Linked DNA regions of Homo sapiens. The protein of the gene in region 2 binds, or shares a complex with, the protein of the main gene of each other region. Links are inferred from orthologs where the notes say so. Each region holds a gene or a part of one and is shown on either strand. Other genes may lie near its edges.

Region 1 (7,855 bases), on a different chromosome or scaffold from region 2:
GGTCGTTTAGTTTCCAGCCTGAGAAGGAGCTATCCATCTCAATGTGTGCATTTAACATAATGTATTGTTGATAGTAAATACTAGAACTTGGGCTCAAAGAGCTGGATCAAATTTAAGTCAAATTGTAGTACTGCATATTCCAGCCAGTTTATAGTAAAAGGTAAACTGGTTGATAAAATTGAATTTACCATGTTAATTTTATTTTCCTCCTAGGGAATGGCATCTTTGTGAAATGGGCAATTTTAATTCCTGAAACTCTAAGAGCAGCGTGCACACTTACAGCTAATATGTAGCAGAACCTGGATTTAGTGGACTTCTGTTGACTCCAAATTTTTCATGCGTCTTTTACTTCCACTCTACAATTGTTTTTGCTTTCTCTGGTACGAAAGTGGGTGAAAGTAACATCACAGAATAATACTGTTGAATGGAAATGTCTGTGAAACAAGCTGCCAGTATATTTTCTAGCCTATGGCTTTTAAAACTTGCTCCTTTACATGTTTCAGAGCTGCTCAGTCCTACTCAAAAAGTTTGACCTTTAGCTAGGATGATGACTTTTCTTCCAGCTGAATCAAAGACATCTGACTACATGACAAAAAGCCTGCTGCCAGCCATGGGGAAAATATTTAGAGAAGAGATTATTTCCTGCACCTGATTTTCCTCTCAATCAGCAAGCTGAGAGCTTTCAAATAGTAGTTTCACCTTCATGAGCCTATCATTTTCTTACCTAAGCCCAAAGATGTCTATTTTTGCCTCTTAGTCTCAAAGTAAAAGTTTCAAAGTAAAAACAAAAAAGTTATTCTGACTGCTGTCAAAGATAAACCCAGCCAGACATTCGTTAAAGTAGTGAAAACAGATTTTATTCAGTAAACCACTGATAGTAGGGGAAAGGGCTGAGCTCAATTCTCATTTGTGCAGAGGTGACTGGCCATTTTAAAAAAGAGAGTAAGGGAGTGGCAGGGAGCCAGCCGCAAGAAGAGTCAGAGAAGAGAAACCTTAAAGTGTTGGTCAGTGTAAACGCCATACTACCTGGCAATTAGTAAGTTACTATTCTATCCTCTCACACAGACTGGGAGACAAAGCCCCTATCCCTCCTGATGATTACGTTTCAAAGAAATGGCTCTCAAAGATACTTGAAGGGACACTTCAGAGTTGGAAGAGATACATATTAACAATTGTAAGCCTGTTTCGTAAATGCTCTAAAAAGGGAACGAGAGGGGTCTATCAATTAGGTGTTGACTAGAACAAACAGTAAATTCTCCCCCTAGCTTTGAGCTTTTTCAGGCAGGCATTTTAATGGCGGGGGCGGCGGGGGGCGGCCTGGGGTCACCCTAGGGGCAGGCCTTACATTGCTAGAAGATAAACTAGTGTCGATGTCTTTCAGTGCAGAAGTTTTGACTGAGTCATCACGTCCTAGGAGTTCTGCAGTTGTCACTACCTCGGGATAGTCCTCATCTTTATTTCCCCACAACTAGCTTGCTGCCTACTTAGTGCAAACAGCTATTAGAAAGTCAACAGGTGAAGGTAAAAAATTTAAAAACTTCATTTCATTAAGAGCTATTTAGTCACCGGGCAGAAAGAAATCTGGGCTTCAGGTTTGAATATAACTTTTATTTTAAGCATCCTCAGATTCTCTCAAAGGACAGAATGAGGAAAAACAACAAAACACCCCCACAGAGATAGGACCACAATAAAAGGGTCTAAATGTCAGGGTCAAAACTGATTTTCTGCTTCCTCACTGAAAAGAAAAAGGGAAAGCCAGGCGCGGTGGCTCCCATCTATAATCTCAGCCGCCAGGGAGGCTGAGGCCGGAGGATCACTTGAGCCCAGGGGTTTGAGGCTGCTGTGAGCTCTGATCATACCACTGCACCCCAGCCTGGGAGACCCTGTCTCTTATTAAAACAAACAAACAACAAACTAAATAAAAATAAACAGGATGAGGAGGAGAAAGGGAGCAAGTTGTTAGGCACATTTGAGAAAACGTCAAAATTTTCCTTACAAACTAGCCAAACACCTACAGTGATATGCCATTTTCCTGACAAAGAATTCAGGCCCCAAAAGAAAGGCAGCCCACAACTGAGCGTATTCCCAAGCATGAGTTCTTTCAAGAAATATTTTTTTGTGGACCTTCTATGGATTAAGACACTCTTTCATCCTGGAGAGAGCCCACAGTCTAGTGGGAGAGAAAGACACATAAACAAATATCTACTTTACAGCGTGATGACCGGTATTAACACAGGTCTGAACAAGGTGCAGCGGTGAGAGAGCAAAAGCAGTGCCTCAGAAACACAGGGATATCCTCTCACAGCAGGTGACATTTGGCGGGATCTTGGAAAATGAGTAAGGGGATCCAAGATCGAATCCGAGGGCTATGCTAGGGCGATTCGATTCCATCCCCACTTTGGCTTAGGGACCTCTTCTATATCCTCAGTAAACTTCCCTTCTCAGAGCATTTATTAAAACCTCCTTGGCCTTTCCAGACGAATGTCTGGCTACGTAAACTGTGAGCTCTGTAGGGCAGAGGTGGCGACGGTTCAGTTATATAAATCCAGTGCCCGGCTCAATAAGGGTATGTGGAATGGATGAATCCATTAATGAATAAAGACAGCAGACCTCCACAAAAGCCCGCCGGCCGGGCGCCTTTTCCTACCGGCTGGGATCGCTTCGTCCAGCCTGATTCACTCAGGAGGAATGCGCGAAGAGGCCGTCAGGAAGCCTCGCCCTAGACTCAAGAAAAGAACCTGGGAAAAGCTCAGGATCCTCCCAGGAAACAAGGACCCTCACTGTGGCCCAGGGTCTGAAGGGACCGCGCTCCGGGTTCCTAAACCTGTGAAAGCGGCTTATCCCATTCCTTTACTTACATTCGCGAGGGAAAGATTTCAATTCGGTCTTTGCCCGACATTCTGACGATAACTTTTCGGCTCGGGTCCCCGGCCGGGCAACCGAGGCTGCAATAGCTCCAGAACTGGCCTCCACAGTGTCTTCCTCTACGGGAGTCAGCTGGTTGTGTCACTTGACCCCTCTTGTTGCTAAGAGGCAGCAGGGACACCCATTTTCACTTCCGCTTCCGGTTGTCACAGGCGACGAAGGGGGAGGACAGAACAGAGGCGTTGCCCGGATGTCGAGGCGCGCGCACCGCGGAACCACCCCTCAATTCCGGTTCGCCTCCCAACCCCTCCCCATCCAGCTTCCCTGCGGCTGCGCAATACGCGGCACGCGCCAGGCCAAAGACTAGGAGCGAAGCGTGCACGCCTTGTCTTTCTCCACCTTTCGTCTTTGGTCACAGCGCCATCTCATGGTTAGCTGAAACTTTGAAAGAGGATTCATTCTTCAGAGGCAAGGAATCGGAGTCCTATGTCTTTCTCGCGCCTTGAAGGTTACTTAGCTAAAGCTAAGATAGCGAGAAACAGTACTTTTCAGGTCCTTCCATGATCTACATTCGTCCTTGTTCTCGGAGGACCCAGACTCTATGGTTAATGATGAAGAGGGGCCTCTATTCGTTCAGCGCTTGCGCATGCGAGGAGGTTCCGCATGCGCGGTGGAGTGAGCGAAGCGCACGCTGAGGAGGATCGGCGGCCGGTGAGGGGGAAGCAAGTCTGGTCTCTGTGATTGAAGAAGTCGGCTCTGGGCTCCAGTGCGGGAATCACACACATACCTCAGGTGACTAATCCCAAGCTCGGTTTCTCCAGGAACTCACTTTGGTTTGTGTCCAGTGACATGGGTGTTCGAGAGCGGGTAGGCCCCGGGCTAATACCTCCCTTTCCCGTCCCTGCGCGGGAAGTGGCTGGACAGCACCGCCACCACCCGCGCTGTCGTGGGCCTCCTCGCCGGCTCCGTGTAGGTCATCCTGTGTTCCAGAGGCATCGTTGTTCGAGCAGAGGAATCTCGTGAAGGAAAGTGGGCCGAGTGGATTGTACAGCCTCTACAATATGCCGAAAGTGAGAATGCCATGACGATGGGGCGGTCTCAGGAGAACGCTGTGACACCGTAACTCTTAACCCCGGCTCAGGACGCTGAGCACTTTGCTTTTTCCAGGCTTGAGAATTCCATCTTTTCTTCCGCCCCAACAGCTCTACCAAAAATTTCCCCTGCGTCTCAGTGGAAACCAAACTGGCCTCTTACCTGAGAAACCTGTGGGACGGGCACCGTGTTGGAAAGAGCGGGGTCCGAGTAGTTTTTCATCTGATAATTGAATGAGTCACCCCTTGAACCAAAACTAAATGAGACTTGAGTTTATTACTGTTACTATCAGTTTGTCGTATTTTGGCGACAATGAGAATAGAACTGTGTTAAGCATATGTTAGGTTAACTATGTTAGTTAAGCATAACTAAAACCTAAGATAAGGATATATTTTCGGGTTAAATACACAGTCATGCTGAGGTCTCTTTATCCTCAAAACTTAGGCTTTTTAAATTTTTATTAAGCAAAAAACATGGTTTCTTCGAGAAAAAGTATAGCAGAGAAGTCTTTATTTCCCCTCAATTGAGTTGTTATTCAAGGAACAATCTCTGTCAATAGTTTGGGGGTGACTTGTACAGAACTTTGCTACCTATTCTTAGTTCATCTGGTGCCAAAAGATGTAGTTGTCTCATGCACAGTAATGTTTGTAGAGATTCGGTGATAACTTTCTTTTTCAACTATAATGATGAAATAAAAGCTTTACTTATGTAGCACTCCTATACCAAGAACTAGCATTCAGAGAGCATTCCTAATACGTGTTAGATCCAAATTAGAATTATCACGAGAGTTGTCCCCATCACATAATATATTTTGGAAAGGAATGTGAACTTCTATATCCATTATAGCAGTTTGACCATGCACTGTTTTGAGAAAGAAGTCCTACCTACCATTTGTCATGCAAAATAACTGACTATGCAGGGTATTTGAAATTAGCCTGGAGTTTGGTTGATATATTTTGAAAGGTGGCTGATACTTTTTACATCAGAACACATAAGAGTATTATAGCATGTTGTGATATTGAGGTTCTGTGGGTTAAAGACATTCTGGATTTGATGTCGGATTACTTGAGTTTAGCTCCTACGCTAGTACTTATTAAGCATTTGTTCTTAAGGAAGTATTATAATTTAGTATTTCTGTTCCACCTTTCCTGTTCATTGCTTCACTGTGCCCTTTCATAGTACTTTGTATTGTAATTATTTGCTTGCTAGTTTGTTTCCCACTCTATACTTAATTACTTAGGTAAGAGTCTTTTTTTTTTTTCTTTTTTCTTTTTTCTTTTTTTTTTTGAGACAGAGTCTCTGTTGCCCAGGCTGGAGTGTAGTGGCACGATCTCAGCTCACTGTAGCCTCTGCCCCTGGGTTCAAGGGATTCTCCTGCCTCAGCCACTATAGTAGTGGGATTACAGGTGCCTGCCACCACACCCAGCTAATTTTGGTATTTTTAGTAGAAATGGGGTTTCACCATGTTGACCAGGCTGGCCTCGAACTCCTGGTTTCAAGTGATCCACCCGCCTCGGCCTCCCAAAGTGCTGGGATTACAGGTGTGAGCCACTGCGCCTGGCCTGGTAAGAGTCTTTCTTGTTGTATCATTAGTGCTTAGTACATAGTAGCTACTGAAAAAAAAATTAACAAATTATTATATTACAAAATGGAAATACCTTCTTTTTCTTTCAATATTTTATGTTTGACTAGCACATAATGGTTTTCAAAATGTTTTTACGTATACATGTGATACCCTCAGTAAACCTGTGATGTACATGGCACAGATGAGAAACTACAGTTCAAAGGATGTTATCTTTCCCAAGCAGCCACTTCTAGTAAGTAGCAGAGCAAGGACTGGAACACAAGGCTAGAGTTGTTCCCCGAGTTTACTATGTTAATTGCCTGATTTGACACTTCTTGAGGACCAAATAAAATAAGAATGCTGTGAAAAAGATAAAGAGGTGAAGTCACCTAGTGTGACTTCGATATTGCGGAATGATTTTTTTAAGTTAAAAAAAAAATTTAAGTTATTAGCATTTCATTAGGCAATATGTTCAAAAATTGTCAACCAATATGCAGGTTTTTGTGGTATGGATTCTTTTTGTACTTAACTACTATCTATCTTTACTATGAATAACATACCATCAACAGTATTCCTTTACTTACCCTTTATGTTGCAAAGAGACTTGTGCCTCCTGAAGAAATAGTATTCATAGTCATATCCCTTCAGGATTCTCTTACATGATTGCCCATGTTTTTTAACCATCAAATTAAGCCTTGCTTCCCCTAAAAGCATCACCTTTACTGTTTGGAGAAGCTTGGTAAGTAAATGTGGTTTTCACTGGTCAAATGTCTTGCAACTGTTCCATACATTTCTGTAACATAGTTTATTTTTATGCCCAATTTGAAACTTTTTAGCTCTCAAATTTGAGAGCTTTACATACACATATTCAACAACAGTTTCCCCACCCCCACCCTCGAAAAGCCCTGTTTAAAAACGAAACAAACAGTCAGCTGTTTCTTGGTGGGTAAGGCCATTGAATGTCTACTTCTCTTTATTTGCTAAATCCCTATTTTGTAGGGATTTTGTATTCCCTACAAAGAAATACATCTCTGCTACTGTCATTAATATGCTGCTCTTTGTTGTCAAACAGATGAGTACTAATAGTTTGCACTTATTGGTGTTATGTACTCTGGCACTGAATATATATTAATGTTGCTTTTTAAGTAAAATGTTTCTAATTATAATATATTTATGAATAGTTTTGAGAGAATATAGTCTTACTGATAAGAGGACAGACTCTGGATCCAGACTTCATGGATTCAAATCCTGACTCATCACCTGTTAGCAGTATGTGAAAGAACAAGTAACTTAACCTGTGCTTCAGTTTTTTAATCTATAAAATGGGGAGAACTAGGGAGAAAGTTGTACCACAAGGAGATAGGCAATGGCCAGATCATATAGGATTCTGTAGGTAGTGGAAAGATACATAAGTCAGTGGGAAGCCACTGAGAAGATATAGGCAGGTGCCAATTAATAAGTTATTATATGAATTTTCACAAGGTTTTCTTAGGCCTTTAAGTTCTGTTACTACCTACGTTTTGAGCAGTGACAACAGTGAAGGTTAACAGAAAAACATGAAAATCATCAGCCATGATTAGTTTGAGAGCTTCCTTTTTTAAATATGCTTCTACCCAGGCTATGATTTCAGGCTTGTGGATCATAAAAGGAGTAGTGCTGAAAGTAGGTTGGGTGGATCAAAGGGAATAATTGTAAATATCTTTAATGCTTGGAGGTTAAGAGAAACTTGAACTTTGTAGTAATGGAGATTAAAGCTATTCTCAAGATTAGGTATACCTATTCAATAAAAGAAAGGAATATTTGGGAGTATTGGGGATAAGAGAAGCTAGACATTGTGAATTCAAGGAAAAAGAATTATGAGAGGAGGATGCATTTTAGTTTATTTTGTGATTAAAATTTTTTTAGTTTTTGTTGTTTTGACATGTGACACTGTAATTTTGGCTATAATAAATGACAGAATGTATCATTTGGTATATTGGTTAGGGTTTAGGTAGAAAATTTTTTCCTTTATATAGTGAGTGGTAGCGTATACAATGTTTGCTCACTTCGGCAAAGAGTAGCTTTAGTTTTCTGATTAGTTATAATAGTGATGCTTCCCATCATTTGATATGCCTTAAAGTAGTATTTTACTCTTGAGGTATTCCTTTAATCCTTAGGTCTTGGAGTACTTTATAGATGGTCATTATTTTTTATGATTCCTCTGAAACTAAAGGCAGAGAATCACCCAAGCATTACAAAAATGTTGAGCAAAATAAAAATTAAAGCTTGGTTCCTGAACATTATCTGTTTTCTGGTACCACTTAAGAAGTTTCAAAGGATGAGAAGACTAAGACT
Region 2 (7,280 bases):
CTTTTAAATATAAACTGGTAATAACCTTCCAAATTCATGGTCAATACAATAGATAAAAACCTCAGATGGACTTTATTAATGCTGAGACCAACTTATTTTCACAGCATGTTTGTTTACTAATAAGTATGGTTATCATCAAAATATGGGAGAGAAGGGAAGAGGAATGAATCGTACTAAATGAAAAAGTGGCTCTGCGTGATCTATAAGTGGACTAGCACTAGACTAAAAGTCAGAGGATCTTCATTCAGCTCTGCCACTTTAGTTATATGTCCTTTTACGTAATGCTGGGGAGGGGTTCAGGTTTGATACTTAGGAACCTTCCTATGACATAAACCCTAGGTAATCTATGTGAAAATATCTTAAAAACTAAGTGGTGTCTGTAATCCCAGTGCTTTGGGAGGCCAAGGCGGGCAGATCACAACGTCAGGAGATCGAGACCATCCTGGCTAACACGGTGAAACCCTGTCTTTACTTAAAAAAATTAAAAAAATTAGCCAGGCATGGCGGCACGCGCCTGTAGTGCCAGCTACTCAGGAGGCTGAGGCAGGAGAATCACTTGAACCCGACAGGTGGAGGTTGCAGTGAGCCAAGATCACACCACTGCGCTCCAGCCTGGGCAACAGAGTGAGACTCCATCTCAAAAAAAACAAAAACAAAAACAAAAAAAACTAAGTGGTGTGTAAAATGGTAAAGCAGTGTAGCTCAGACTTTACATGAATTGATTTCCCAGTCATAGAGACCTAGTTGAAGTTCTGGCCCTACCACTTAATAACTGTGTGACTTTGGACAGTGTACTTAAGTAAGGTTAAGTTTTCTCACGTTTAAATCTATAGATGGTGCTATTAAGTTAGATCATGAATGTAAAATGCCTAGAACATATTTTGTAAAAAAAATTTTTAATTAATTTTACTGATAACTACTTTGATTTTATATACTGAATTTCTAAAGACTTAAGACAACCCACAGAATTGACTGATGTCCCTGTGAGCAGCAGGTTTGGGGCATGAAGAAGAGAGTAGAATTTGAAAAGAAGCTATTACCCAAAAAATGGGGGAACAAGAAAAGTGTACTTGTAGCAAAGATTCTAAAACAGATTTATTAATTTTATCTGAAAAATATCAAGATAAAGTCCCTTATTTGGGCAACTGCAGTGTCTTAATATTTTCTATATAAAGATTTTCCAAAGCTTGTAATCATTAATGTATGGAATAAATTTAAGGAGGCAGTTCTTCAATTTTGAAGTTTTTATTCCTGCAATGGATTATAGAAGTATATTAAAATTGTACAGATTGTAGAGCAGGGACTTTTGAGTTAATGCTTATAAGCTTAAAAATTTTGTCTTTTTAAAAAAATTAAGTGTTTTTATATCTTATTTTTATCCTTATATGAAATAGACAAAGAAATGTAGAGAACATAATGGAGACATAAACTAGAGTAAAATTCTTCCCTTCTTAAATTCATGATTCACAAGGGTTAGTAGTTTTGCAATGGAAAATATCAGCAAATTAAACAGTAAGTATAGCTATCATGAGTTTATGAATCACTTTATTCCTGAAAAAAAAAATTACTCATTTGTCTTAAGGAAAGATTTTATTAAGTTTATTGACTTTTCCTTAATGTTGATTGTCTATTATAACAAATGGATTTATTGATTTAGGAATGAATTTATTCTTTATACTAAGTAACTTTATTTTAAATAAATGAAATGTGAGCAATAAAAATGTTTTCCATATAATTTCTGAAGAGAATATTAGTTTTGCTATTCTCTTTTTTCCCTATGGTGAAATGATAGCGACTTTGGTTTTTATAAGTGTATTCATTTATATTTAGTATATACATATTATGTATATACTATATATAGAGTAAATATTTGTAGTATATAAAGTACGCAATGTGTGTGTATGTATATATAAAGACAGCTGAAGTGGTTGTGTATCTTCGTAGTAACATATTTATTTTTACCTGAAACTACTGAAGTGATCTTTAGAATAATGATTTATTTACATTTGAAACTCCTCTTTCTGTATATTTCTTTGTAGTTAGCTCTAGTTAATAAATTTACAACTGTGATTAGCTGTTTTTAAAAATTAATGGTATATCATAAGTATTTTCAGATTTAAATTTTAGAAGGAAACACTTTCTTATATCTTAAGGTTTTAAAAATCACTATTATTTTTGGTATTATTATGACTAACAACAAAAATTTCAGTTTTGGATCTTAATGCTATCTGTTGAAACTGTTCTCTTGGTAAGCCTTTAAAAAAATTTTATCTGCAACATGCCACATTTTGTTTCTTTTCTGAAAAATAATTAAGCTTATTTCACTGAAAATAAAATGGGTGGTATATGATATGATATAGAAGAGTTTCAGATGTGCTTGAGCAATGAAAAGCAACCAGACTTTATAAGTTTTTAGTTCTTAGTTTAATTTTTTTAATGTTTAAAGGTACAATAGAGAAGACTAATTGAATTGGAAAATACCTTTAAAATTGAAAAAAGAGCATATGTATAATAATAATAGTATATACATATGGAAAAAGTTGTAAGGAAATGCATCAAAATAAGTAATTATCTCTAGATTGATGCATTAAAGAAAAAATTAAAATTTATTACTATACCTTCTGTATATTTGAATTCATAATGTCAGTAGGCATTGCAAAATATTTCTTAATTTGATATGGAAAATTAAGGCACCTAAATAATTCTTTCATCTTAACTACTTGGATATCTTAAGTGAAAATGTTTTGTCTCATCCAGGTAGCTGAGTAAGTTATTTAATTTTATAGGTGTGTAAATATATTTTTAATTTTAAGTATATAAGTGCAGCAGAATTTTAAAAAGCAGAGTAAATCTCAGTATATAAGATAATTTACCACATTTCAAAGGGATAATTCAATCCAATGGTGAAAAAGGGCACATATATATCATAAATGTTAACTGATACAACTTGCTCATCTAGAAGAAAATATAATTGATCCAATACATTGCAACAGATGCAAAAACTGATTTCAGATGGATTAGAGGCTTAAATGTAAACAATAAAATATTTAAGATATTAATCTCCTAAATTTCCTTTATACAAACAATCCAGATGTAGTTTTTTAAACCAAGATAGGAAACCTAAAAGTCATAAAAGTATGGATAGACACATGAGACTGCATGGAAACGAAGGATTCTTTAGTGGCAAAAATAAAGGACCAAAGACAAAATCAGGCGGAAAAAAAGGCTTGAGATATATGTAACAGATGAGTTAACCATTGAAAGAACTCTTTCCAATTAAGAAAAAGTTCACCCAGTAAAAATATGGATAAAACATGTCACCAGAAGTTCACAGAAGAGAAATCCAAACATTCAACAAACAGTAAAGGATGTGTAACCTTACTAGTAATCAATATACTAACAATGAAATATTATTTCTCTGACAAGCAAAAATTAAGTGGTAAACCTACTGCTAGCAGGGATATGTGGAGAAGGATTATCTCATAAAATGCTAGCGGAGATGTGAAGTGTTAGAGTTTTTCCTAGTAAACAATCAAGCAACATCAGTTAATACTGAGAATACATGTATTTTCCACCCATCAGTCTAACTCCATGTAATCTTTTCCTTAGAAATAAAAGCACCAGTAAGAGTTTACAGGAGTGTTAGCTGCAACAGTGTTTCAATTTTCAATGTTAGTAGTGGCAAAAAACGTGGAAACAAAGGGAATGCCTGTTAATAGGGGTATTGTTATGTAAATTATGGCCGAGGCATTTTATGGAATGTTGTGAAGTGATTAAATGGTAGGAGTTAAATCTACTGGTGATTAGAAAGGATTTCCAAGTACATTCTGAAAGGATTTCTATCATGTGTCTTTTTTTTTTTTTTTTTCCTGAGACAGGATCTTGCTCTGTTACCCAGATTGGAGTGTACTGGTGCTGTCTTGGCTCACTGCAACTTCCTCCTCTTAGGTTTAAGCTATCCTCCCGCCTCAGCCTCCAGAGTAGCTGGGGCTACAGGTGTGCACCACCACACCTGGCTAATTTTTTGTATATTTGGTAGAGACGGGGTTTCACCTTATTGCCCAGGCCATCATGTATCTTAAGAAAAAAAAATACAAAGTACAGAGAAACATTTGTAATGATAACTCATTTTTTATAAAACCAGTTGAAAAACACCATGAGTTTTGTATATTTTTACCTGGTTGTCACCGTTGGAAAGAGGAAATAAGCAGAAAAGGAAAGAGACAGAATATCCATAGTAACATATTTATATAAAACTACATGTTTGTACATGTCTGTGTATATGATGGATTATGGGAAACAATGGGCACTAAGATGATTTACTTTCTTCCTTACACTTTACATTATATGTTTTTATTTTTACAGTGGACATGAAGTGTTTCTGTAATTAGGAAAAACAGGCTGGGCATGGTGGCTCACGCCTGTAATCCCAGCACTTTGGGAGGCTGAGGCAGGTAGATCGCTTGAGCCCGGTGTTGGAGACCATCCTGGGCAACATGGCAAGACCCCCCTCTACCAGTAAAAACTAAAAATTAAAAAAATTATTTGGGCACGATGGCATGCACCTGTAGTCCCAGCTACTCAAGAGGCTGAGGTGGGAGGATCACTTGATCCCGGGGCATTCAAGGTTTCAGTGAACTGCGAATGTGCCACTGCACTCCAGCCTGGGCGTCAGAGCGACACCCTGTCTCAAAAGTAAGAAAAAAAAAAAGAAAAGAAAAATGTACCAAAAAATGATAGGGACTACTAGATAGGATTACAAATTTGGCATGTTATTTTTGGTATGGATAGTCAGTGCTATCGACACGCTTTCTGCCTTAGAGTGTAGAGCACATTGCACAAGTGTGGGATCTGTCACCTGACTTAATCATATGACAGAATCATAAGAAAAGTCCCTATTTGGGTTTTGGCATATAAACTGGATTACAAGATTAACTTGCCTTAAGAAAACTTTAAACAAGAACTTCTTTAAAGAAGCAAAATAAAAAGTACTTATAATTGTTTAATACTTGATTTCTGTCCTTTTAAAAGTATCTCCGTAGAATACATCATTCAAAGCCTAGACAGAAAATAGCAGATGCTTTAGAGTTGGATTTGTTGCATACTTAAAGTAGCTGTATTTTTTTCTCACATTGGTATTACTTCCCCTTTTCATTACCAGTTTTATTAATTGCATATATGTGCTTTAATGTAAGCTGTCCAAAGTTTTTTTTACAAGAGTTGGGATATATGTAAATAAAAATAATTTTAGAGTAGTATTAATATAACAAAGAGATGAAGGAAACCAGACTGTGTGAGTCAAATCCTGGCTCTGCTTCCTAGTGGTGTGACTTTGGAGGAGTTACTTGTGTCTTTTTGCATTGCATTTTTCTCAACTTTAAAATAAGGATAATAAGAGTATTTAACTTCATTGGATGTTGTGAATAATAGAAGCGATTGGAATAATAACTAGCACATAAGGACCGTATATATATTTGCCAGCTGGGTGCAGTGGCTCACACCTGTAATCCCAGCACTTTGGGAGGCCGATGCAGGCGGATTGCTTGAGCCCAGGAATTGAAGGGCAACATGGCAAAACCATGTCTGTACAAAAAAAAAAAAAAAAAAAATTAGCCAGGCGTGGTGGCACACACATCTAGTTCCCGCTATTCGGGAGGCTGAGGTGGGAGGATTGCTTGAGCCTGGGAGGCAGAGGTTGCAGTGAGCTGAGATCGTGCCACTGCAGACCCTGGGTGACAGAGCCAGACCCTGTCTCAGAAAAATATATATGTAATAATAATATGTGCTATTATTTGCTCAGTCAATTAGGTGCAATATATAATAGTTTTACTTGGCTCAGTTGTTTTAACATTCATTTACTCATCCAACAATATTTTTAATTCAGTTGAATGGGTAATACATGTACAAATATGGTAAAATTTATATATTCATACAAGTGTGTTTTCTCTCCCCTCATCCTTATTCTTTTCTTCCCCCATATATTTATCCACAAATGGTAGCACCTCTTCGTATTATTCTGGACCTTACATTTTTCGCTTGAGTATTACGTTGGAGATCTTTTCACATTGATACAGTTAAAACTGCCTCATTCTTTTTAATGATAGTTTAGTATTCAATTGTATTAATATACCCTCATCATCATATGTAACATTTATTGAGAGCTTACTCCTGATCCAAATGCTTTCTTAATACTTTAGTTTTATTAACTCATGGAAGCCTCATAACAACCTATGAGATAGGCACTATTTTTCTATATTTAACAAATGAGGAAAACTAGGCACGGGATGATTAAATGTCCAACAGTCACACAGTTTATAAGTGGTAGGGCTCAGGATTAGAGCCCAGGGAGTCACTTTCCAGAGATTGCTGCCATAATACCGCTAAACATGTAGCCTGTCATAGTATTACAAGGTATTTAACCAGCCTCCATATTAATGGACATTCCAATCTTTTGCTTAAGAAACAGTGCTATAGTTAATATTTTGTTAATAGAACATTTTGTACATCTACAATAAATTCCTAGAAATGGACTAGCCATGTCAAAGGTAAGTACAATTTGAATTTTGGTGGGCACTGCCAAATTGCTCTCCAATTTAGGGATGTTCAGAAGTTCACCTTTGTCCTTAGTAATTTGCCAAAATCTGCCATTTAGCTTGGGTCTTTGGAAGGTGTGCTTTTAACATTTCTAGCATCCCTGAATTGTGTGTGATCTACCATCATGTAATAGCTTAAGTTACTATCATATGGAATTAATGTAACAATGTCAGTATGAGAGGTGTGACCTTTGGACTTACTACTTTCAAATAACAGTAAGTATTTTAGATATAACTTGAAATACTCCTTAATGTGATTTATACATTGAAATTCTATCAATCGAAGTTTGAATAGATATTGTTGAAAAAGTAAAATGCTGTAATTGTTAATAATTGTGAAGTTGCTGATTTTATGTACCAAAGCAATTATGTAAGAGTGTTCAAATAGTTAAATAGTGAATCAGATTGCATTTGAACATTAAGAGTGTGGTAGCTAGCTAAATAGAGGAATAGCTGGGTCCTTTCTTGTGAAAAGTGAGTTTTTGATAATCCGTGAGTCCTAGTCGTAGGTAATGCAAAATGAGGTAGCGAGGAGCTTTATTTAGATGAGTTATAAAATCCACAAATTATTTTGAATATAACACACTTGGTTTCAGTGCCCAATATTTCACTTGTTCAAGAAAGGAAAAAGTATCTCTATGAATCTAAGAAGCAGATTGACTGACACCAAACTCTTCAATGTGATCC

The links.
Region 1: the proteins of ATP6V1A (region 2) and ATP6V1D are in contact, whole or in part, in a cryo-EM structure (PDB 9B8P), measured with the Rattus norvegicus proteins. The link is inferred for Homo sapiens from one-to-one orthologs. Residues at the interface, in NP_001101788.1 of Rattus norvegicus: Ala366, Met368, Pro369, Ala370, Asp371, Ser372, Asp416, Ser418, Asp436, Lys438, Glu491, Gln494, Leu495, Val496; in NP_955418.1 of Rattus norvegicus: Lys4, Asp5, Arg6, Arg167, Ala171, Val175, Ile176, Arg179, Tyr186, Glu190, Arg194, Glu197, Tyr200, Arg201, Lys204, Ile205, Lys208.

Annotation. Positions count from the first base shown.
Region 1 is NC_000014.9:67,356,800-67,364,654, forward strand, and holds the start of ATP6V1D (V-type proton ATPase subunit D), read right to left. Parts: upstream 3,006-7,855; 5' UTR 2,900-3,005; coding exon 2,859-2,899; intron 1-2,858. UniProt on the Homo sapiens protein: Subunit of the V1 complex of vacuolar(H+)-ATPase (V-ATPase), a multisubunit enzyme composed of a peripheral complex (V1) that hydrolyzes ATP and a membrane integral complex (V0) that translocates protons.
Region 2 is NC_000003.12:113,749,843-113,757,122, forward strand, and holds part of ATP6V1A (V-type proton ATPase catalytic subunit A), read left to right. Parts: intron 1-7,280. UniProt on the Homo sapiens protein: Catalytic subunit of the V1 complex of vacuolar(H+)-ATPase (V-ATPase), a multisubunit enzyme composed of a peripheral complex (V1) that hydrolyzes ATP and a membrane integral complex (V0) that translocates protons.